3 linked regions of the Homo sapiens genome follow. The protein of the gene in region 1 interacts with the protein of each later gene in a pairwise test. Each region holds a gene or a part of one and is shown in the gene's direction. Other genes may lie near its edges.

Evidence for each region.
Region 2: the proteins of CRACR2A (region 1) and CCHCR1 interact in binary tests that used the Homo sapiens proteins (3 or more experiments, as listed by UniProt).
Region 3: the proteins of CRACR2A (region 1) and GPR75-ASB3 interact in binary tests that used the Homo sapiens proteins (3 or more experiments, as listed by UniProt).

The regions. Positions count from the first base shown.
Region 1 is NC_000012.12:3,672,667-3,680,537, reverse strand, and holds part of CRACR2A (EF-hand calcium-binding domain-containing protein 4B), read left to right. Parts: intron 1-188; coding exon 189-300; intron 301-1,439; coding exon 1,440-1,623; intron 1,624-6,945; coding exon 6,946-7,092; intron 7,093-7,720; exon of another isoform or gene 7,721-7,809; intron 7,810-7,871.
Region 2 is NC_000006.12:31,147,642-31,155,512, reverse strand, and holds part of CCHCR1 (coiled-coil alpha-helical rod protein 1), read left to right. Parts: intron 1-713; coding exon 714-1,017; intron 1,018-4,390; coding exon 4,391-4,554; intron 4,555-4,652; coding exon 4,653-4,788; intron 4,789-4,947; coding exon 4,948-5,058; intron 5,059-5,297; coding exon 5,298-5,447; intron 5,448-6,784; coding exon 6,785-6,895; intron 6,896-7,001; coding exon 7,002-7,108; intron 7,109-7,871. UniProt on the Homo sapiens protein: May be a regulator of keratinocyte proliferation or differentiation.
Region 3 is NC_000002.12:53,849,807-53,857,677, reverse strand, and holds part of GPR75-ASB3 (GPR75-ASB3 protein), read left to right. Parts: intron 1-2,812; exon of another isoform or gene 2,813-2,921; coding exon of another isoform or gene 2,922-4,544; exon of another isoform or gene 4,545-4,766; intron 4,767-7,871. Other genes in the region: GPR75 (probable G-protein coupled receptor 75), read left to right, coding at 2,922-4,544. UniProt on the Homo sapiens protein: Probable substrate-recognition component of a SCF-like ECS (Elongin-Cullin-SOCS-box protein) E3 ubiquitin-protein ligase complex which mediates the ubiquitination and subsequent proteasomal degradation of target proteins. Recognizes TNFRSF1B.

The DNA.
Region 1 (7,871 bases):
TGGTAGTTGTGCTAACATGCAAAGGAGGAGAGGGATGGTGAAGCAGTCTGGATGCAGAAGCTTTCTACTGGCTTTTGTAGGACTGGGCCGAACTCTAGACACTTTCTGGCAGAAGGCTCTGCAGTCCCAGGTCACCTCCCCCACCAGTGAGTGTCAGTGTTAACCAGTACACTCTGGGTTGTTTTCAGAGGCTGCATAAGGAGCTACCGCTCAGCCTGGAGGAACTGGAGGATGTGTTTGATGCCCTGGATGCTGATGGCAATGGCTATCTGACCCCACAGGAGTTCACTACTGGATTTAGTAAGTTCTGATGGGTGCTGGGGACCTCAGGGTTATGGGTCTACCTAACACTGTATAAGGTGCATTCCTGTCCCTTGTAGACCTGGGGGGCAGGTAGTAAAGCTTTCCTGCCCTCCTTTCAGGGACCTGGAGCTCAAGGTCTCCAGGCTCTAGATTGCTTGGGCCTCCTCACATGCCCGTCTCAACTGCTTACATTGCCGCTTGCTCAGTGCCCACTGCACTGCCATTACCAAGCTCCCTCCCACTGGGACTGGCAAGGGAGATGGACGGAAGCTCTGCAGAAGCCATAGCATAAAAGGGGGAGCTGTGATGAGATTTGCAGCCTCTCCTTTTCTGCCTTCATAGAAAAATGGCCAAAAGGTGGGACAACTGGATGGCTCATTCCAACCCAAGTCTGGCTGAATTTTCCAGGTTGAGGGATAACAGCTATCAGAGGAATTTCTAGAAGGTTTGAACAGACTAGACATTCTCAAGGTAACCAGGAGGAAGAAGAATCGAGATCTATGAACAATATAAAGAAACCAGACACACTATCCTATCAGATACATCAAAAGCCATATATCTGCCTTATGTGTGGGGCCATATAATTTTCTTGTAAGTATCTGATGCCTTTCCTGACCTTCAGGAGCTTCTAATTGACTTGGGAGGATAAGACAGACTGCTGTAACACTGGACAGTATGAGTATGGAGGAAGTACACTGGAAACTGTTAAGGAGCTTGTAGATGTGAAGTCTAGTGATGCTAGCGGGAGGATGACTAGGATGACAATAGGAGCCTCTGCAGTCAGGGTGCTGGAATGCAGTGCAGGGAAAGGCCTTGTTGCTTAAAGAAGAAATCAACGGAGATGCGTTCTAAGCCAGATGTTAAGGGACTGAGAACCACAAAGGAGACACCGTATCCGTCTTACATTCTGCCATTCCCAGATTCTAGCATCACTGATGGGGTGTTTGTGGAAGTGGAAAAGTCACAGAATCTGGAACGTGTCCACGGACCCATGTCCATGGATCTTTGCTGGAGGGGCTTTCCCTTCCCTTTCCTTCTCTCAGATGAACCTTCAATGATTCCTGGCAGGTGAGAAAGCTGAGCTCTTCCTGGATGGGTATGGTCTAATTCGGATCCTTGTGCCCTGCACCCCCCAGGTCACTTCTTCTTCAGCCAGAATAACCCAAGTCAGGAAGATGCAGGTGAACAGGTGGCCCAGCGCCATGAAGAGAAGGTGTATCTGTCCAGAGGGGATGAGGATCTGGGCGACATGGGCGAAGATGAGGAAGCCCAGTTCCGGATGCTGATGGACAGACTTGGAGCCCAAAAGGTGTTGGAAGAGTAAGTGGTGACAGTGATTTGTAGAACGGAGACCAGCCTGGTAGGAACCTCTTCCTGTGTCCATTCAACAATTAACATTTGTTAACCATGTGGTGCTGGTCCCTGCACTGGAATGCAGTGCAGGTAAAGGCCCGCTGGTTCTGCCAGTGGGGGCCTGTCCTTTGTGATGACCTGGCTGTGTGTTGGGCTCTGTCTCTGCTGTTTACATTTTTTTTTCTTTAGGAATCATTCCTATTCTCCTTCTCTCCCACCCCCTCTACCTTCCTCACTCCTGGCCATGCATTATCCCCCAGTCCTTGGCTCAGCCTTGCTCCTCATGAGGCACTCACACATCAGAGGTCTGTACCATGCTCTCAGGGTTTTTCATGGAGTTCTCCCTAAGGCTTCCTATCACCATCAGCTCCCCAGCATCTTTACCTCTCCTGGGTCTCTAGAGCTACGGTGCCTCCCAGCTGCCCCAGCTGTGGGTGCCTTCCTGGCCAAAACCCATCATGTGGAAGCATTTGCACACGGTATCCTCGGCAAACCAGGCTTGTGCAGGAAGCCAAGGTGGGAAATGAAGCAGTTTTTAGCAGGCCACTACTTGGAAAATTGTAGATGGCTGAGATCTCAAACAAAACATAACTACCCCTCCACCATTTTTTTTCCTAAAATGTGCTTTGGAATAGACACAGGGATCTAAGCCCTGACATTGAAGTAAAGTAAAATAAAATAAGGAAAATGTGGTGTTACAGCTAGTAGAAACCAAACAGAGGGCCTGAAAAGCATGTAATACCTTCTGCCCCTTTAGCCTTTGCCTTTGGCCTTTTTGTTTTGGGGTCCTTAGGTCTTGGGTTAGATGTATGTTTCCTGTAGTGTGGGAATGCCCTACTGATTACAGCTGACATTTCCTGAGCTTGGGAAGAGAAGGGGCTAGGGTGGAAAATGATAAAAAGGAGACAAGAGAGAAGAGGCCTATATACGATTTGCAGGCCGAAGCTCTGTGAATTTTTCAGCAAACAATTTGGTAGACTGTGGCAGAACTGGGAAAGGCTGGCGAAAGTGTGTTCCAGGCAAGAAAGGGATAGGCAAGTGCCTGGGGAAGATCCTGGTGGGGGCGCTACACAGGAAGTGGAACTCAAGACCAGCAGCAGTAGCAGGTTTGCTGAAGGCCTGGAAGGGGCTGCAGCAGGTGTCGACCACAGAAGGTGTAGCTGGCAGGTGGAAGGGGCACAGGTGGGTGGGAAGCTCATTAGTCATACACCTGACCCAGCTTCTCCAAGGACAACAGGCCAGAGCACAGAGACCATTCCTGGTGACAGTGTGACACCTCCTCCTGGAGAAGGGGGAAGGAGAAGGCAGTGCAGGTGAGCTGAGGCACCGTAACGGAAGGAAGGGGCCTCTCTGCCCAGCCCTCACTGCAGGGTAGCAGCCTTACTGGCAAGGTTCTCAATTAGAGTCCACCAGACGTGACTCTGAGGACCTATAGTAAGGCAGTGCAGAACTGAGCCAAAATGAGATGTCCCGAAGAAGAGGAGGTTTTGTGGAGGTTTCAAGAGTGGTCTGTAAAAGATGATACACAGAAGATGGTGACCAGCCACTTCCATCCTCACTGAAGTGGGCTTAGATTGCAGCATGAGGGAAACATTCACGGCTGTGAGACCTCAGATAGGGAAATAGAAAAGGCTATGAATATTTGAGGGCTCTTTAAAGATTTTGCTCACCAAAATGATTTGTGTGTTGTTCTGGAAGCAGTGAAATGGATTGATAAACCTCCCAGAATCCTTTCTAGCCTATACTCCCATATCCTCCCAGGAGGGGTGGCCTTGGTGTGTTCTAGAAGTTCGAGACTGGGCATCTGCACTTTGACTTTTCTTGGTGGTCCGATTGGCTAAGCGATTTGGCAGCTTAGTGAGCTTTGGCTTGTTTTTCATCAAAAGTTGAAAGACTTGTCCCTTCTCCAGAAATCTGGGGCAAGTTGTTGTTGCCATGACTAAGTAGTTCAAAGAGTGTTGGAAGAGGAGCAGGTGGGTCTGCAAATCTCACTGGGGACTTGAGCTCAGTTGGCTCCATCAGGAACCTGGCAGGTGTGGACAGACAGACCTGGGCTGGCAAGGTGAACCTTGATTTTACAATGCATTTACTTCATGGTGGCGTGTCTCAGTCCATTTGGTTTGCTGTAATACCTGCCATAGATGTGGTACTTTATATAAATAACCAAAATTTATTTCTGGCAGTTCTGGAAGCTAGGAAGTTCAAGATCAAGGTGCCAGCAGATTTGCTCTCTGATGAGGTCACATTCCCTCATTCACAGACAGTTGTCTTCTCACTGTGTCCTCATATGGCAGGAAGGGTGAATGAGCTTCCTCTGGCCTCTTTTATAAGGGCACTAGTGCCATTCGTGAGGGCTCTGCCTTCATGATCTAATCACCTCTCAAAGTCCTCATCTTCTGGCACCATCATGTTGGGGTTAGGATTTAAACATATGAATTTGTAGGAGATATAAACATTCACACCACAGCAGGGAACAACCTATAACAGGGATGGGAGGTCACCATGGTGTCTCTCTGAGACCCTCTTATCTCTGAACCCTTTGCCACATCTAAATTTTACCTATAGGATGAAATAAGACCCCCACAACATGCTGTGTGTGTGTTGTGGGGCTGGGAGGAATGGAACTCATTCTGAGAAACAGAGAGGTTCCTTACCTCCTTTTCTCCCATTTCCCAGATTCACCCATGACATCCAGTACAGTGCAAGGTTTACAACAGATCATAATAAATACTTGTTGAGTTAATAAGGAAATGGGTGGGTGGATGGATGGATGGATGGATGGTCTAAATAAGTACGCGGATGTTTGGATGGGATAGAAGAAAGAATTGGTGGAAGTGATGGAGCAAGGAAAGGAGGGAGAGAGGGATGAAGTGTTAGAGATGACCAGATAACTGATCAGAGGTGGGCCTATTTCTCAGTGGTCCTCTTCTCTGCTGGGTGCAGAGAGTCATGTCCATTTCCCAAGAGCGTTGCTAGCATGGCACTATTGAATATCCCTTCTGAATAAGGTTTCTAAAATATAATGCTTAATAACGCAAGCACAAAGGATTTTATTCCTTCTCCTGAGGGTTCCTTGTCAGAGCTATCCTCAGATCTTCTGTTTCTGGAATTTAATGGAAGACAAGTCACATTTACGTTTCTGTTTTTGTGGTTTTTGTCTTAAAGTGATTTATTAGTGAGGTACTCCCAGAAGAAACTGGCAAGGGATTTGGGGAAGTGGGACAGGGAAAGGAAGTAAAACAAATAATGGCGTAATTTTAGGAAGAGTCCTGGTTCTCCAGGGGTATTATTTATGTAGTCATAATAGTATAAACATTTATTTAATATCATATTTGGGAGTTAGCATACAGAGTTTTAAAACAATACTAATTATAGAACACAGTGTCAATGGCACTAGTCCCATTTGTGAGGGCTCTGCCTTCATGATCTAATCACCTCTCAAAGGCCTCACCTACTGATGCCATCATGTTGGGGGTTAGGATTTAAACATATGAATTTGTAGGAGATATAAACATTCACACCACAGCAGGGAGCAAGCTGCCACAGGGATGGGAGGTCACCACCCATTTCTCAGTGGGCCTCTTCTCTGCAGGGTGCAGAGAGTAATGTCTATACCACAGGGGCATTGCTAGCATGACACTAACAAATATCACTTCCGAAGAAAATTTCTAAAATATAATGCTTGTTATACAAGCACAGATAATTTTATTCTTTATCCTGAGGATTCCTGGGGAGCCAACAGGAATCTGTTGGTGGCAGATTGTCAAGGTGCAGATGACTGTAATGGACAAGCAAATTTTGGAAAGAGCTCAAGAGAAGTATAGGCATACAGATAACTTTATCCTCATAAAACGAGGGTCATAAGCGATTTTCCATAATCAGGTTAAATTAATTAAATGTGAAATATACATTACATAAAGTCTCAAAGTTTAACAGAGTAAAAAATCAAAATGTAATTATGTTGAAAGGATGGAAGGAGGTGAAGGACTTATATTTTCAATAGCTGGAAACTTGAAAGATTAAGACACAGAGTGAATATTTAAGTAACAAAAGACTTTGAGAAGACAATGAACTGAGCTAGTTATTACATCTTGTTATATAGATGTGAAAAAAGTGTTGGAAAATACATATGTGCCCATTAATTTAAAAAAATCAAAAGCCTGATTGTTTGCGGGATAAGATTTATATTTATTCTCTACTTTGCTAGAATAAAGTTTAATTGATAATTTATAATAAACTAGCCTGTGAAATTTCACTTGAACTCTACTGTTTATTATTATATAACTTTCAAACTTGATGCTATAACACTCTACTGTCTGCTAGCTGTGAGAAATTATTAACTTTTATTGAATTAAAACCTATCCTCTTTCAGATTTATGTTTAACTTAGCTTGATCATTGGCCACAGATTTTTTAGTTTCCCCAGAAAGGGAGAACAGGGTCCACCATGTGTGTCTCCTCCTCATTCCCTCCCTGGGTGTCAGCCTGAGCCCCTGTATCTCTGTCACTGAGCTGTGTACACACGTGCCTCTGTGCCTTTGTCTATTGGCCTCTGGGTCTCCCAAGTCTCTCTCGCCTTGTCTTTCTGTGTGTGCGCATCTTTCAGACTTGCTCCTTCCCTTCTTTTTGCCTGTCAGTCATCCCTAGTGCCACTAGGCCACAGTGGGGTGCTGCATATTCTCTTCCCTTCCTGCAGTGACAATTGCTTTCTGCCATCCATCACATGGCACGTCTTTACCTCTCAGCAGTGAGGACCATCCTTCCTGGGGGCAACGAGCTCTCTGCTTTAGCTCCATAGTGTGTGTCCTTAAACGCACTGGGCTCCTGTCCTCCTGTCTTCTTCCTGGCATTTGGAGATGCACCAGAGCATGTTGCTGTGCACGCCCAGCCCCACGAGCCCGTCGTGAAGGCCACGGGAGAACAGAAGCAGCAGAGCGAGGTGGGGAAGGAGGCCAACACCGGAGTCAGACAGCCCTGAGCTGGACCCCTGACTCCATCAGTGACTGCTGGGTGATCTTAGACAGCTCACTCCACCTCTCTTCACCTGCTTCGTCATCTGTAAATGGGGTAATTGCAGCTCCTGCCTTGTAGGGTTATTGTGAGGACGAAATGAGCTGATATCCTTGAAGCTCCTCACATGCAGCAAGCATTCGGTCCACGTTAGCTACTGTCATCTTTATAATGATTCTGACGGTACTGTTTCTGGCTGTCAGTTTCCTGTCTGGGAACCTCTGTATTTCCCGTGAAGCCTCATCTCCACACTTCCACATGAGCGTCCCTTCTCTTGCAGTGAAAGTGATGTCAAGCAGCTCTGGTTGCAGCTGAAGAAGGAGGAACCTCATTTACTGTCCAACTTTGAAGACTTCCTGACCAGAATCATCTCCCAGCTCCAAGAAGCCCATGAGGAGAAGAATGAACTGGAGTGTGCCCTAAAAAGGTGGGTACCCCAGTGTCAGCCGCTTTCTGTAACTATGTGTGAAAAAGAGAGACACACGGTGCACTTTCTCTTAGATCTTCTGCCAAAACATCGTGCAATGCCTCCTTTTGCTGTCTGCCAAAGTGGGGACCAGGCCCTGTGTCTGTCACGATATATGTATTTTTAAGCTCTCCGTCACCTTTTTAAGCTATATGGTAGGCACTATTCTAAATACTTTTTATACACTAGCTTATTTAGTTCTCACCACAACGCTTTGAAGGAGGGACTGGTTATCATTTTGCACATTTATTATCTGCACATTTTGCAGGCGGAGGGTTGGAAACCCAGAAAGGTTAAGTAGTACACCCCAGAAGGCATAGCTTGTGAACAGTAGAGCCAGGACTGGGAGTGAGCTAGCCAGGTGCCTGTGACCAGAAGAAAAATCACTCTGCTTGCCTCCAGGCAGTAAGACCCCAGCATACTGGGCCATCCCCCAGGGCCAGATCAGCCCACTTTGCAGAGGTGGCGTGTTTGGTAAGGTGACCTATAGCCCTGCTGAATGTCCCTCCTCCTGGCCGCTCTCTCCCGTCACGGCCTCATGTCTCTTCGTCTACCCTATTTGCCTCCAAGACCTCTCCAGGAGACAGGACCAAGCATTGTTAGAAACAACCCAGAGTCCTCCTCACTCACAGCCCTGAAGAAGCTGCTGAAGAACTGAACCAGAGTCAGAACAGGCAGGTATATCACAAAACTGGGGCAAGCCCACTAGACACCAGTCCCTTCATGAGAATTAATGCATG
Region 2 (7,871 bases), on another chromosome or scaffold:
CCTGCCTCAGCCTCCCAAGCAGCTGGGACTACAGGCACCTGCCACCATGCCCAGCTAGTTTTTTATATTTTTAGTAGAGATGGGGTTTCACCGTGTTAACCAGGATGATCTCGATCTCCTGACCTCGTGATCCGCCCGCCTCGGCCTCCCAAAGTGCTGGGATTACAGGCATGAGCCACCGCGCCCAGCCAATAAATGCCTTTTAACTAGCACCTGGCCTCACCATATTGATACTGGAAGCTTACGACCTCTCTATGCCCATTCCTCCCTCAAACTTCTTGCCCTTAAATTAGAATTGAGAAGTCCCTGTGTGTTCTTCCAACCTTTCCACTTAAAATGTGTGGCCTAAAAATAAAAAAATAAATAAGACAAAAAAACCACCAAAAAACAAAAAGAATGTGTGGCCTAATGATATACACATTTGATGTTGAATCCTCCTGTATGTAGCTCTCTCTAGGGAGATCATGTTCCACGATCTCAGCCAGACTTTAGGTCCTGTGAGTCCAGGCACTGGACTCAACATGCTCAATAGGGCTTTGATGAATGATGATGATGTCAATGCAGACATCCCCATACCCCAGCTTCAGCACCCCCTTCACCTCCCCACACGGAAGCAGAGGGGTCCTCTTTTCCTTCTCCTGGCTATGTTTATGCCCTCAACTATCCTTCCAGCACTGGAGACAAGTCTCACCTGCACTAACCTGTCTTTGAAGGTCCTGGGGGCTGGAGGGGTCACAGGCCCTGAGCCAGCAGGCTGAGGTGATCGTTCGGCAGCTGCAAGAGCTGCGGCGGCTGGAGGAGGAGGTCCGGCTCCTGCGGGAGACCTCGCTGCAGCAGAAGATGAGGCTAGAGGCCCAGGCCATGGAGCTAGAGGCTCTGGCACGGGCGGAGAAGGCCGGCCGAGCTGAGGCTGAGGGCCTGCGTGCTGCTTTGGCTGGGGCTGAGGTTGTCCGGAAGAACTTGGAAGAGGGGAGCCAGCGGGAGCTGGAAGAGGTTCAGAGGCTGCACCAAGAGCAGGTGAATGCAGGGGTAGAAAGGATTCAAATTCATAACGGAGAGCTGGGCAGTAGCTTCCAAGCAAAGAACAGGTATTGCAGAAAAGACCCTCCATGAGTAGTGAGTAGTAGAGTGATGAGACCTTTGGTGAAAATAAACACACATGGCCTAGAAAGATGGAGAATTTGGGTACTTTTATCTTAATTCAGGTTGCACTTTTCCCCCAAGACTCAGGTGGCCTCCCACCACTTGAAGCCCTGCTTCCCTTTCTAGTAGGAAATAGTTTGCCTCCCTACTTTACTCCAGGTACCAATTCATCAGGGGTATTGTGGAGGGCAGTGAGGAAGGTGGGTATAAGGGGGCTATGGTGGACTGGGAGAGAGAGATTATTCAGTCCTCAAACTCAGTACTTACTCTTTGCCATCTCTAAGACTCAGTGACCAAATTAGCCTGAGTCCTGCCTTCGTGGATGGAACTGACAGCCTCGTGGGGGATATACACATCCACATTTAATTTAATCATAATTAATTGCAATCAGGAGGAATGCCTTGAAGGAGAAGGACTAGAAAGCACTAACTTAGTCTGGGGTTCAGGGAAGGCCACTGTAACCAGTTGACATGTCAAGGAAAGAAACCATAGCCCTGGGCGCAGTGGCTCACGCCTGTAATCCCAGCATTTTGGGAGGCCGAAGCAGGCAGATCACAAGGTCAGGAGTTCAAGACCAGCCTGGCCAACATGGCGAAACCCTGTCTCTACTAAAAATACAAAAATTCACCAGGCGTGGTGGTGCGCACCTGTAATCCCAGCTACTTGGGAGGCCGAGGCAGGAGAATCACTTGAACCTGGGCAGTGGAGGTTGCAGTGAGCCGAGACTGTGCCATTGCACTCCAGCCTGGGCGACAGAGCAAGACTCTGTCTCAAAAAATAAAATAAAAAAGGAACTGGGAGAAAACAAGGGAGAATTCCTTTATAACCTTGTAGTGGGCAAGGCCTTTCTACCTGTGAGTCAAAATCCAAAATCTAGAAGCCATAAAGGAAAAAATTGATCCATTGACTTTATAACATGAACATTAGGAATAGCCAAAAAGAAAAAAAAAAGCTATATTTATAGCTCAGATCACAAGAAAAGGGTAATATCCCTAATATAAAATGTGTGCCTAGAAATTGGTAAGGGAAAGACCAGCAATCCAATCAGAAAATGGACAAAGGAGATTTATGAAAGAAACTTAGAAACAAGAAGCTAGGCCAGGCACAGTGGCTCATGCCTGTAATCCCAGCACTTTGGGAGGCCGAGGTGGGCGGATCACTTGAGGCCAGGAGTTAAAGACCAACCTGGCCAACATGAAGAACTCTACAAAAAAATACAAAAATTAGCCGGGTATAGTCGTGGGCGCCTGTAATCCCCCAGCTTCTTGGGAGGCTGAGGCAGGAGAATTGCTTGAACCTGGGAGACAGAGGTTACAGTGAGCTGACATCACACTCCAGCCTGGGCAGCAGAGCGAGACTAAAAAAACAACAAGCTACCGTTTGTGCTGAATAGGAGTTGGCCAGTGAAGAGGCGTGTGAAGTCCAGTGGTAGCTGGAAGACACTTGGTGGGACAACAGGTGAAGGCGGGGACAGGAGGCCAGAAGGCTGGGGCACAGAGATGAGGGGCACTGAGTGTGCTGCAGAGCCCAGGGCCCAGGGCACAAGGCTTTGGCCACTTCAGAACTTGCTACTTTCCCATAAGAGCAATGAGCAGGCTGGGCACAGTGGCTCATACCTGTAATCCTAGCACTTTGGGAGGCCAAGGTGGAAGGATCATTTGAGCCCAGGAGTTTGAGACCAGCCTGGGCAACAAAGCGAGACCCCCATCTCTATTTTATGGAAGAAATTAGGGCTGGGCATGGTTGCTCACATGTGTAATCCTAGCACTTTGGGAAGCTGAGGCGGGTGGATCACTTGAGGTCAGGAGTTCGAGACCAGCCTGGCCAACATGGTAAAACCTCATCTCTACTAAAAATACAAAAATTAGCTGGGCGTGGTGGCTCATGCCTGTAATCTCAGCTACTCAGGAGGGTGAGGCAGGAGAATCGCTTGAACCTGGGAGGCAGCGTTTGCAGTGAGCTGAGATCGTGCCATTGCACTCCAGTCTAGGCAACAAAGTGAAACTCCATCTCCAAAAAAACAAACAAAAAAAAATTGTTTTTTCAAGTAATAAGCAACCGTTGAAAGGTTGTTTTTTTTTTTTTTTTGAGATGGAGTCTCGCTCTGTCGCCCAGGCTGGAGTGCAGTGGCGCGATCTTGGCTCACTGCCAGCTCCGCCTCCCGGGTTCAAGTCATTCTTCCGAGTAGCTGGGACTACAGGCGCCCGCCACCACGCCCAGCTAATTTTTTGTATTTTAATAGAGACGGGGTTTCACCATGTTAGCCAGGATGATCTCGATCTCCTGACCTTGTGATCCACCCACCTCGGCCTCCCAAAGTGCTGGAATTACAGGAATGAGCCACTGCGCCCGGCCTGTTGAAAGGTTTTAAGCAGGGAAATAACATGATTAGATTTGTATTTTATGTCTAAAAAATTTTGTCATTTATGTCCCCCAAATTAATTTTATTGTTGTATGGAGACAGGGCTAGAGGAGGCAGACCAGGAAGCAGGGTGGGCACTTTGCCCTCCTTTCCAGTCCATCCCATGACTCTTGGTGGCTCTGACACCCCTGCAACCCTTTGAGGTGCCATGAGCAAAAGACACAAAATTCCTCCTTTCCTGGAGCTTTCCTTCCAGTGTGGTCCGACAGATAGTAACACATACACATAAGCAAGATATGGTCAGTGCTAAGTGCTCAGGAGGACGTGAACAGCTGATGGGGCAGAGTAGGGTGGGGAGGGACGGTATTAGAGGGCCCAGTGAAGCCACCCTGAGGAGGGGCTATCGCCTGGGGTCTGTGGAGCAAGGAGGGGCCGCTGTCTGGTTCTCAGCAGACTCCCCGTGGCCGGAGCGGGGAGCAGTGGGAGAGCCTCCAGGGTGAGCTCAGGAGGTAGGCAGAGGCCGGGTCCCCTGGCCTGCAGGTGTGGAGAGACACCTGGGTTTTGTTGTGAATGCTGTGAGAAGCCACTGAGGGTTTGTAAAGACTAGTTAGGAGATGGTCGCTGTTGCCCAGGCAAAAGATGAGGGTTGGTGGCAGTGGAGACGGAGACAGAGAGGTGAAGATATGTTTTGGGGGAGATCGGACAAGAACTCCTGATGGGTTGTGGGGCAGCTGCGGAGAGTGAGTTGCCAGCTCTCCATTTGCTGTGCACAGTTGGCTGATTGGTTGGGTCATTCTCTAAGGTCACAGAAAGTGGGAGTGAAGGGAACAAGGAAGGCCTCCATGTGGGGTCGAGCCTCTGCTGAGCCCCCTCTTCTTTCCGCAGCTGTCCTCTTTGACACAGGCTCACGAGGAGGCTCTTTCCAGTTTGACCAGCAAGGCTGAGGGCTTGGAGAAGTCTCTGAGTAGTCTGGAAACCAGAAGAGCAGGGGAAGCCAAGGAGCTGGCCGAGGCTCAGAGGGAGGCCGAGCTGCTTCGGAAGCAGCTGAGGTAGGTGGGCGGACGCCGACGGGAGCCCAGCAATTAGTGATGTGGTGGATCTGCAGGGCGCCCCACTGATGGCTGTCCCATTCCCACCCCAACCCTAGCAAGACCCAGGAAGACTTGGAGGCTCAGGTGACCCTGGTTGAGAATCTAAGAAAATATGTTGGGGAACAAGTGCCTTCTGAGGTCCACAGCCAGACATGGGAACTGGAGCGACAGAAGCTTCTGGAAACCATGCAGGTGAGGGTGCAGGAATGTATCTGTGTGCAGACTTAGGGATCAGGTTGGGAGGCAAGCGTGGCCCTTGGAGGAGCGTGTAGAGCACAGCCTCCGGGAGAGAAGGTGGTACCTAAGGCGGCATGGAGGCCCTACAGAGGGGCTGCTTTCCTCTGCCCGCAGCACTTGCAGGAGGACCGGGACAGCCTGCATGCCACCGCGGAGCTGCTGCAGGTGCGGGTGCAGAGCCTCACACACATCCTCGCCCTGCAGGAGGAGGAGCTGACCAGGAAGGTACAGCCCAACCCCCAGACCCCTCACCCTCAGCCGCATCCTGCATCTACTGTCCCCTGCCTCCCTCCCTGTGGGCAGGAGGGGTCAATGTGCCCCAGAACCTGCTTAGATCTCCTTCCTGTGAACTCCTCTTGCTGTAGCTCATGTTGCCCAGGCAGGACAGAGGAGAAACAAAGATGCCACCTCCTTCCTCTCCTCCCCCAGGAGCCCACACTTTTCTCCCACTCCTTCTCCCTCAGGTTCAACCTTCAGATTCCCTGGAGCCTGAGTTTACCAGGAAGTGCCAGTCCCTGCTGAACCGCTGGCGGGAGAAGGTGTTTGCCCTCATGGTGCAGCTAAAGGCCCAGGAGCTGGAACACAGTGACTCTGTTAAGCAGCTGAAGGGACAGGTCACTGCACTCTCTTTTCTCCCGGTATTCCCTCCCAGCACCTTGCTCCTTCCATGAAGGTGGCATCCATTCAACCAGTGTTTATTGAGTGGTTGCCACATGCTGGGCACACAGCCCTGAACAAAACTAAAATGTGGAGCTTGCATTCTAGAACAGAGACACAGAACACGCAAGTAAACAGATAATGTTGGGTAATTATATGTGCGATAGAAAGATTGAAGCCAGGTGCAGTGGCTCACACCTATAATGCGATCACTTTGGTCTTGAACTCCTGACCTCAGGTGATTCACCTGCCTCAGCCTCCCAAAGTGATGGGATTACAGGTGTGAGCCACCGTGCCCAGTCAAGTAATGCCAACAGTTTGGGAGACCGAGGCAGGTGGATCACTGGAGGTCAGGAGTTCGAGACCAGCCTGGGCAACATGTGAAATCCCGTCTCTACTAAAAATACAAAAAATTAGCCGGTCATAGTGGCTCATTCCTGTAGTCCCAGCTACTCTGGAGGATGAGGTGGGAGGATCACCTGAGGCTGGGAGGTCGAGGCGAGGCCACAGTGAACTGTGATCCCATCACTGCACTCTAGCCTGGGTGACAAAGCGAGATCTTTTCTCAAAAAAAAAGAAAGTAGTAAGAAAAATTCAAAAGATAATGTGACGGAGAGACTGTGGGGTGAGTCAGCCTCAGGTAGGATGCTCAGAGACAGCCTCTCTGAGGAGGTGACAGCATCTGAGGAGAGTGGCATGGTCAGTTGGTGGGTCTTGTGGGGTGGGTCAAGGGCTATTCCCATCTTTGAGTGGGCACATGGAATGTGGAACATGGAACACTGGGCTCAGATTCCATCCTCAGAACCTAAGCTTCTGTCTCCCTGCGTGGCATTCATTCTTTTTCTTTTCTTTTTTTTTTTTTTTTTTTTTTGAGAAGGAGTCTTGTTCTTGTCACCAGGCTGGAGTGCAGTGGCCTGATCTCAGCTCACTGCAACCTCCGCCTCCCAGGTTCAAGTGATTCTCCTGCCTCAGCCTCCCGAGTAGCTGGGATTACAGGCACATGCCATCACGCTCAGCTAATTTTTGTATTTTTAGTAGAGACAGGCTTTCACCATGTTGGTCAGGCTGATCTTGAACCCCTGACCTCAAGTGATCCATCTGCCTCGGCCTCCCAAAGTGCTGGGATTACAGGTGTGAGCCACCGTGCTGCAACCCACCCCCGTCGCCCGCCCCCCCTCCCCCCAGCCCCTGCATGGCATTCTTACAGAGATCTCTGCACCTGCCACTTTGCTTCCAGTGCCCCCCTCATCTTTTAGCTCTAGAGGGCCCTGCCTAGCTCTCTCTCCTCCCCCAGGTGGCCTCACTCCAGGAAAAAGTGACATCCCAGAGCCAGGAGCAGGCCATCCTGCAGCGATCCCTGCAGGACAAAGCCGCAGAGGTGGAGGTGGAGCGTATGGGTGCCAAGGTTGGTGTCAGCCTACTAGAGACTCGGGGAGGGCAAGGGAGCCCCTGTTCCGGGGCTGCAGCCAGGACTTAGGGAGGGACCCTGTCCTTTGCTGCATCCTCCCCAGGGCCTGCAGTTGGAGCTGAGCCGTGCTCAGGAGGCCAGGCGTCGGTGGCAGCAGCAGACAGCCTCAGCCGAGGAGCAGCTGAGGCTTGTGGTCAATGCTGTCAGCAGGTATCAGGGATGGAGGGGTGGGTGGAGTAGTGTTTCTGCCACCTCAGGTTCCTGGGCACCTTGTTGCTGAGGATCCTCAGGCAAGAGGGGCTGGAAAGTGGCCACTGGAGGCTACAGGGCTGGGCAGATTTAGCTCTATCAATGTTCCTGTGTTCGTTTCTTTTCCTGGGGAAGCCCCTTCTGCATTCATACCTGATTGCTTGTTATGAATTTCCCGTTGCATGTTTGGCTGGAGGTGAGGCCTTGCTTCCTCCTGCAGTTCAGTCTAGTAATGGCTTGAGCTAAATAGAGCACCCGGGAGGATCTTTACTTGCAGTATTGTTCAAGGATGGAGAGTGTAGACACTTCATCTTCCTTTTTTTTTCTAAAATTTTACGGGCAATCCGTTTCACTGGAGAAAAATTTAGTCTATTTATTTATTTATTTTGAGACAAAGTCTCGCTCTGTCACCCAGGCTGGAGTGCAATGGCGCAATCTTGGCTCACTGCAACCTCACCTCCCTGGTTCAAGTGATTCTCCTGCCTCAGCCTCCCGAGTAGCTGGATTACAGGCATCCTCCACCAGTGTCCTCCACTACACCCGGCTAATTTTTGCATTTTTAGTAGGGACGGGGTTTCACCATGTTGGCCAGGCTGGTCTTGAACTCCTGACCTCAGGTGATCCACCCACCTCAGCCTCCCAAAGTGCTGGAATTATAGGTGTGAGCCACTGCACCTGGCCTAGTCTATTTATTTAAAGCTATATACTTACTTGCTTATTATAT
Region 3 (7,871 bases), on another chromosome or scaffold:
CCAAATCACCTTTTTTCCTCCTGCCTCCTATTCTTGACTAATGTTAGTGCTTCATCATCTCATTTTTCTCCTAATCCCTTTTTCCAAATATCTCTTAGCCTGAGGTCTTCATAACTTCCATCATCCCGCTTCATTATTACCTAGTTACTTTTCATTTGTCTTAGCATCCTAATTCCAGACTCCTCATTCTTCTAATTTCCCCAGGCCAAATTCCTGCATCCCTCTTCACCCCTCTTCATCTCTCTACCTCCAAAGAGGAAACCCTTGGAGATAAGGGGGTTAGAGACACCAGTATCACCTCCCTGCTCTTCCTGCCTCCTCAAATTGTTTTCTCTTCTACTTCCCTTTTCATAAATTAGCTGTAATACTCCTGTTAGCAACTTTTAAAAACAGTAAAAAATTGTCTTTCTCGGCCGGGCGCGGTGGCTCACGCCTGTAATCCCAGCACTTTGGGAGGCCGAGGCGGGTGGATCATGAGGTCAGGAGATCGAGACCATCCTGGCTAACAAGGTGAAACCCCGTCTCTACTAAAAATACAAAAAAAAAATTAGCCGGGCACGGTGGCGGGCGCCTGTAGTCCCAGCTACTCGGGAGGCTGAGGCAGGAGAATGGCGTGAACCCGGGAAGCGGAGCTTGCAGTGAGCCGAGATTGCGCCACTGCAGTCCGCAGTCCCGCCTGGGCGACAGAGCGAGACTCCGTCTCAAAAAAAAAAAAAAAAAAAAAAAAAAAATTGTCTTTCTCATTATATAGGTATCAAAAGTGTTCAGAAACAAATATACAGCCTTTAAGTGGAAATAGAGCTATCTGGTACTATTTTTAAAAAATTCTAACCATCAAGAAACAAAAGTTCAGGATTTTCTTCTCTTATGGAACTTTTATTTGAAAGGAAAGTATAGAAAAGTTGGTCTCACTTTCCAGTGGACAAATTCACCATATCGTCCTGATCTGTACCATATGAATGTTAAGAATATAGATTAAGTTATCTTTTTCCTTGATTAAGGACACCAGTCAATTATATGGATTTCCCAGGACTGGTATATGTCTGATAGTCACTGGCATGGCTGTATCTGTTGTTAAATGTGGAGAGACTTCTGTATTGGGTAGTCCATAGCTGCTAATTGGAGCCCCAGGTAATCCCTGACTGACCTGGTTCATTCCGCTGTACCCCCTTGATCTGGCAACTAAAGGGTTAACAGCTGGAGGCTTCTGGGATCCAGCTTGAGCTGGTGGTTAAGTACACTGAACATCAGCCCTGGACCTCTGCAGTGCCACTTATTGTTCCTAAAATTCTAGATTAAGGCAAACCCTTTTTGGTTGTCAAGAACATAGTGCTGTCTCCAAGGAACAGCTTAGTCGGTCCCACCAGAAGCATCTGTTGGGAGCAGGTTGGGCACCAACCCTTGCAGGACTTTGGGATTTGGGACAATGTAGATTTGTGTGAGTGCACATTAAGTCTCATTGCAAAATAGAAAAAAAAAAGTTAGGAAAAAGGAGCAAGAAGTTATTCTTTTAAAGTAGAGACTGCCTTACTCATCGTAGCACCTAGCACCTGGCGTAATGCTGGCATATGGTATGCACATAATTAATATAAATTGAGCGAACGAATGCAGGAATGGGTGCATGCCTCCTGCTTCACCATCAGGATATTCTTGTTGGGATAATGGTAACTCACATTTATATAGCAGTTTAGACTTTACAATGTGGTGCTTTGCACCTTGTAAATTTCTAATATAATTCCAACATCCTTGGTTACTTCCAGTTTTCCGTCTCACATGTAGTCCTACACAAGGTTTTTTTCCAAAGGAGAATATGTAGTTAATTGGCCAAGAAATTGCAAGCTGGGGGAAAAATTATAAATACTGGGAAATAAAGGATTCTTCATAGGGAACGAAACAGGGTTTGTTAATGATTTATGGGAATTATGTGAAGGGCCACATTATGCATCAACAATACCCTCCAGCCTATATTTCAAGCACATGCAGTTTTTTGCCGCAGTGCTTCTGCTGCAAAGACCTACCCCCACTTCTCTTAGCCTGTCTGTCCCCACTCCATACCCCCGACCTTTCATCCAGCTGGCCTGTGCTTGCTAAAGCTCCCTTTATCCTTTCCCAGCTCCCTTTCCATGTTGGAGTAGGTTCCCCCCTTCCATGCTCTCATAGCACCCTGCAACCTTATTAGGCTGTAATTATTACATAGTTAGATTGATCTCCAACTAGATTGTCATCTCTTTGGTGGAGAGATTACGTTCTTGTGTATCTTCAGTGCCTGACACAGAAGTGTTTCTAAAAGTAACATCTGCACACCCCTCAAACAGAATCACAAGGGGCGAGGCCAAGAAATCTGCTCTCCAAGTGATAACTTAAACTTTTTAACATGCTCTTCAGGTGACACTTAAACTTGTTTGAAAACCTCTGTGTCATAAAACTAAATATTAGCTGGATGAATGTATTTGTATCTTTTTCTGTGTTGGCCTTTGTGAGGAGAAATGCTGTCTATGCACCAAATCAGAGCTGAAAAATTCTAGTGTTTTGTTAAAAAAAAAAAAGAGAGAGAGAGAGCTGGGTTTGGTGGTGCATGCCTGTAGTCCCAGCTACTTGGGAAGCTAAGCCAGGAGGACTGCTTGAGCACAGGAGTTCAAGTCCAGCCTGGGCAACATGGTAAGACCCCATTGCTAATAAATGAATAAATTTTTCTCTCAAGGTGAGAGATACTAGTACTAATACTACTACTAATAATGAGATCACTGTATGAATTCCTTTCTGTTTCTACATTAATCCCTTTCTGTTTCTGGGTGTGCATTTTTGTGTGTAGGCTTATCTGTCTTGGGCCTCTTTTGTCACATATTGCTCATCTGTGAGCTGAGGCCCTGACTCACTGAGTATTTTTGGGGAGCAGAAGAAGGAGACATTTCTCTCCGAAAATGAACTCAACAGGCCACCTTCAGGATGCCCCCAATGCCACCTCGCTCCATGTGCCTCACTCACAGGAAGGAAACAGCACCTCTCTCCAGGAGGGTCTTCAGGATCTCATCCACACAGCCACCTTGGTGACCTGTACTTTTCTACTGGCGGTCATCTTCTGCCTGGGTTCCTATGGCAACTTCATTGTCTTCTTGTCCTTCTTCGATCCAGCCTTCAGGAAATTCAGAACCAACTTTGATTTCATGATCCTGAACCTGTCCTTCTGTGACCTCTTCATTTGTGGAGTGACAGCCCCCATGTTCACCTTTGTGTTATTCTTCAGCTCAGCCAGTAGTATCCCGGATGCTTTCTGCTTCACTTTCCATCTCACCAGTTCAGGCTTCATCATCATGTCTCTGAAGACAGTGGCAGTGATCGCCCTGCACCGGCTCCGGATGGTGTTGGGGAAACAGCCTAATCGCACGGCCTCCTTTCCCTGCACCGTACTCCTCACCCTGCTTCTCTGGGCCACCAGTTTCACCCTTGCCACCTTGGCTACCTTGAAAACCAGCAAGTCCCACCTCTGTCTTCCCATGTCCAGTCTGATTGCTGGAAAAGGGAAAGCCATTTTGTCTCTCTATGTGGTCGACTTCACCTTCTGTGTTGCTGTGGTCTCTGTCTCTTACATCATGATTGCTCAGACCCTGCGGAAGAACGCTCAAGTCAGAAAGTGCCCCCCTGTAATCACAGTCGATGCTTCCAGACCACAGCCTTTCATGGGGGTCCCTGTGCAGGGAGGTGGAGATCCCATCCAGTGTGCCATGCCGGCTCTGTATAGGAACCAGAATTACAACAAACTGCAGCACGTTCAGACCCGTGGATATACCAAGAGTCCCAACCAACTGGTCACCCCTGCAGCAAGCCGACTCCAGCTCGTATCAGCCATCAACCTCTCCACTGCCAAGGATTCCAAAGCCGTGGTCACCTGTGTGATCATTGTGCTGTCAGTCCTGGTGTGCTGTCTTCCACTGGGGATTTCCTTGGTACAGGTGGTTCTCTCCAGCAATGGGAGCTTCATTCTTTACCAGTTTGAATTGTTTGGATTTACTCTTATATTTTTCAAGTCAGGATTAAACCCTTTTATATATTCTCGGAACAGTGCAGGGCTGAGAAGGAAAGTGCTCTGGTGCCTCCAATACATAGGCCTGGGTTTTTTCTGCTGCAAACAAAAGACTCGACTTCGAGCCATGGGAAAAGGGAACCTCGAAGTCAACAGAAACAAATCCTCCCATCATGAAACAAACTCTGCCTACATGTTATCTCCAAAGCCACAGAAGAAATTTGTGGACCAGGCTTGTGGCCCAAGTCATTCAAAAGAAAGTATGGTGAGTCCCAAGATCTCTGCTGGACATCAACACTGTGGTCAGAGCAGCTCGACCCCCATCAACACTCGGATTGAACCTTACTACAGCATCTATAACAGCAGCCCTTCCCAGGAGGAGAGCAGCCCATGTAACTTACAGCCAGTAAACTCTTTTGGATTTGCCAATTCATATATTGCCATGCATTATCACACCACTAATGACTTAGTGCAGGAATATGACAGCACTTCAGCCAAGCAGATTCCAGTCCCCTCCGTTTAAAGTCATGGAGGCTATAGGATCTTATGTAAACAGTTTTTGTTTCTGATAGTAATGGACTTTATTCTAACTTGAGATCAGTGGCGGATCAAAACCTACAAGATTCAACTGAAAAGTTGGCAGTTATGGTTTTCTTTCATCTGATGTGTCAGTATCTGTTGATTTGCTTTGTAGTTTGTTGACATCTTAAGATTTGATGTGAAAGTTTTAGATTTTTTACCCTGCTCTTTGCCTCAGTCTTTTGTACCGAGCCTTTAAATAGATGCCAGGAATGAAGCTACTGTGTTAAAGTAGAAAGTCAACCGATTATCATGATTTGAGTCAGTGTTATGTGACTTCAAAATAAGGTATTGACTGGATTTTTTTTAAAGAATGTGAAAATATGATTTTTGCTGAGGTGTTATTTTTATTAATTGAATTGTAAATTTTGATTTTTTGAAGTGTTGAAATCGGGAACACTACACCTTGTTGGTAGCAGGTTGATTTGAATAAATAATATATTGTTAGCTGGGTGCAGTGGCATGCACCTGTAGTCCTAGCTACTTGGGAGGCTGAGGCAGGAGGATCACTTGAGCCCGGGATTATGAGTCCAGCCTGGGCAACACAGCAAGACCCTGTCTCTAAAGGAAATGTATATATTCTTTTTTTTTTTTTTTTTTTTTTTTTTTTTTTGAGACGGAGTTTCACTCTTGTTGCCCAGGCTGGAGTGCAATGGCATGACCTCGGCTCACCGCAACCTCCACCTCCCGGGTTCAAGTGATTCTCCTGTCTCAGCCTCCCAAGTAGCTGGGATTACAGGCGCATGCCACCATGCCCGGCTAATTTTTGTATTTTTATTAGAGACAGGGTTTCTCTGTGTTGGTCAGGCTGGTCTTCAACTCCTGACCTTAGGTGATCCGCCTGCCTCGGCCTCCCAAAGTGCTGGGATTACAGGCATGAGCCACTGTGCTTAGCCAGAAATATATATATTCTTAAGGCAGAAAAGGTGATAACTCTGTCTTTACCAAAAACACTCACACAGGTATTAGGTACTTTTCTTTCATAGGACAGTCAACTAAGAATATAGTATTATGATTATTGCCATTTCTTATTATAGACATGTTTTATGTCAGTTGAGTAGGTTTACAATTCTTTTGAAAAGAAATATATTTGGGCCGGGCATGGTGGCTCACACCTGTAATCCCAGCACTTTGGGAGGCTGAGGCGGGTGGATCACCTGAGGGTCAGGAGTTCGAGACCAGCCTGGCCAACATGATGAAACCCCGTCTCTACTAAAAACACAAAAATTAGCAAGGCATGGTGGCAAGCACCTGTAATCCCAGCTACTCGGGAGGTTGAGGCAAGAGAATCGCTTGAACCTGGGAGACAGGTTGCAGTGAGCTGAGATCGTGCCATTGCACTCCAGCCTGGGTGACAAGAGCGAGATGTCATCTCAAAAAAATGAAAAAAAGAGAAAGAAAGAAAGAAAAGAAATATATTTTTGCTTGTTAAAAGTGAATTATTTATTTATTTATTTTTTTCCTGAGAGGGAGTCTTGCTCTGTTGCCCAGGCTGGAGTGCAGTGGCATGATCTCTGCTCACTGCAACCTGCGCCTCCCGGGCTCAAGTGATTCTCCTGCCTCAGCCTCCTGAGTAGCTGGGATTACAGGCGTGTGCCACCATGCCCAGCTCATTTTTGTATTTTTTAGTAGAGACAGGTCTTGAACTTGTCTTGAACTCCTGACCTCAGGTGATCTGCCTGCCTCGGCCTCCCGAAGTGCTGGGATTACAGGCATGAGCCACCCCAACTGGCCCAAAAGTGAATTGTTTCTGAATGATCTTATTCAAGAAGCCTAGTGAAGAGGACTGCATCTATGGTAGAGGTGCACTGTTCCCAGGAGAGAAGGCACTGCGGTAATCATCTCGGTGTTCTGTGGAAAACAGTGTGGACTCCTGTCATGCATTGGGCAATATTTATTATTGCTTAACAAGGTTTACAGATAAGACTGGGAATGTTTTGATTTATGTTTTCCTTCTGTGTGAGAAGAGTTTACTAACCACCTGACAGTATTCAAGTAACTATTTAGAAATGACTTCTTTTTTGTCTTTATTTATTATTATGGTAGAAAAATTCTCAAGATAATCTATTTTCAAACTAATCATTTTATTTCTCTCCCATTAATCTTAAAGTGGAAATGGGCAGAAAGAAAAAATAGATTTAAGTATTTCTATACCTGAAACTAATTTTACTATATGCTCTGAGATTCCTAGCATAACAACTGTGAACTCATATTTTATTGTAAAAATATTTTCAGTATACAGTTAGTATTTGAACTCACTAGGTTTTTAAATGTTAGACACACAAGATGAGCATCAATATACAACACCTATCTTTATAAATTGTTATATTCAAGAGTTATTATTGCAGATTGGAAGGTACTTTGTTCCTTTGCGTAAAAGTCTTTTTTTTTTTTTGTAGAAACAGAGTCTTACTCTGTCACCCAGGCTAAAGTGCAGTGGCATGATCTCAGATCGCTGCAACCTCCGCTTCCCGGGTTCAAGCGATTGTCTTGCCTCAGCCTCCAGAGTAGCTGGGATTACAGGTGCCCGCCACCACTCCTGGCTAATTTTTGTATTTTTGGTAGAGACAGGGTTTCACCATGATAGCCAGGCTGGTCTTGAATTCCTGGCCTCAAGTAATCCACCCACCTCGGCCTCCCAAAGTGCTAGGATTACAGGCATGAGAAACCACATCCAGCTGAAAGGCATTTAATTTATAGTTTCCTCCCTCAGCTCTCCCCAAATACAGGGGTCATGAGAGGTATAGAGAAGACAGAATAGATATTCAATTAGAACTCTGCTCAACCTTATCTTATAACTGTTACCTTTCAGTATTGATCAGTTATTTCTATTTTTGAGATTTAAATAGGCATAGATTTTCTTTTGTTTTCTTTTTCTTCTAAATTTTTTTCTTGCCACACCCAGGGGCAGCCTCGAATTATTTTGTTTTTAAGTTCACCTTTTAGACTGATTTGCCTACCTACTCCCTCCTTCTTTCCCTTTCTCCCTCCCTCCTTCCCTTTTTCCCTTTTCTTTTTTTTAAGATGGAGTCTCATGCTTGTTGCCCAGGATGGAGTGCGGTGGCACAATCTCGGCTCACTGCAACCTCCGCCTCCCAGGTTCAAGCGATTCTCCTGTGTCAGCCTCCCGAGTAGCTGGGACTACAGGCACGCACCACCACTCCCAGCTAATTTTTGTATTTTTAATAGAGACAAGGTTTCACCAAGTTAGCCAGGCTGGTCTCAAACTTCTGACCTTGTGATCCACCCACCTCGGCCTACCTAAGTACTG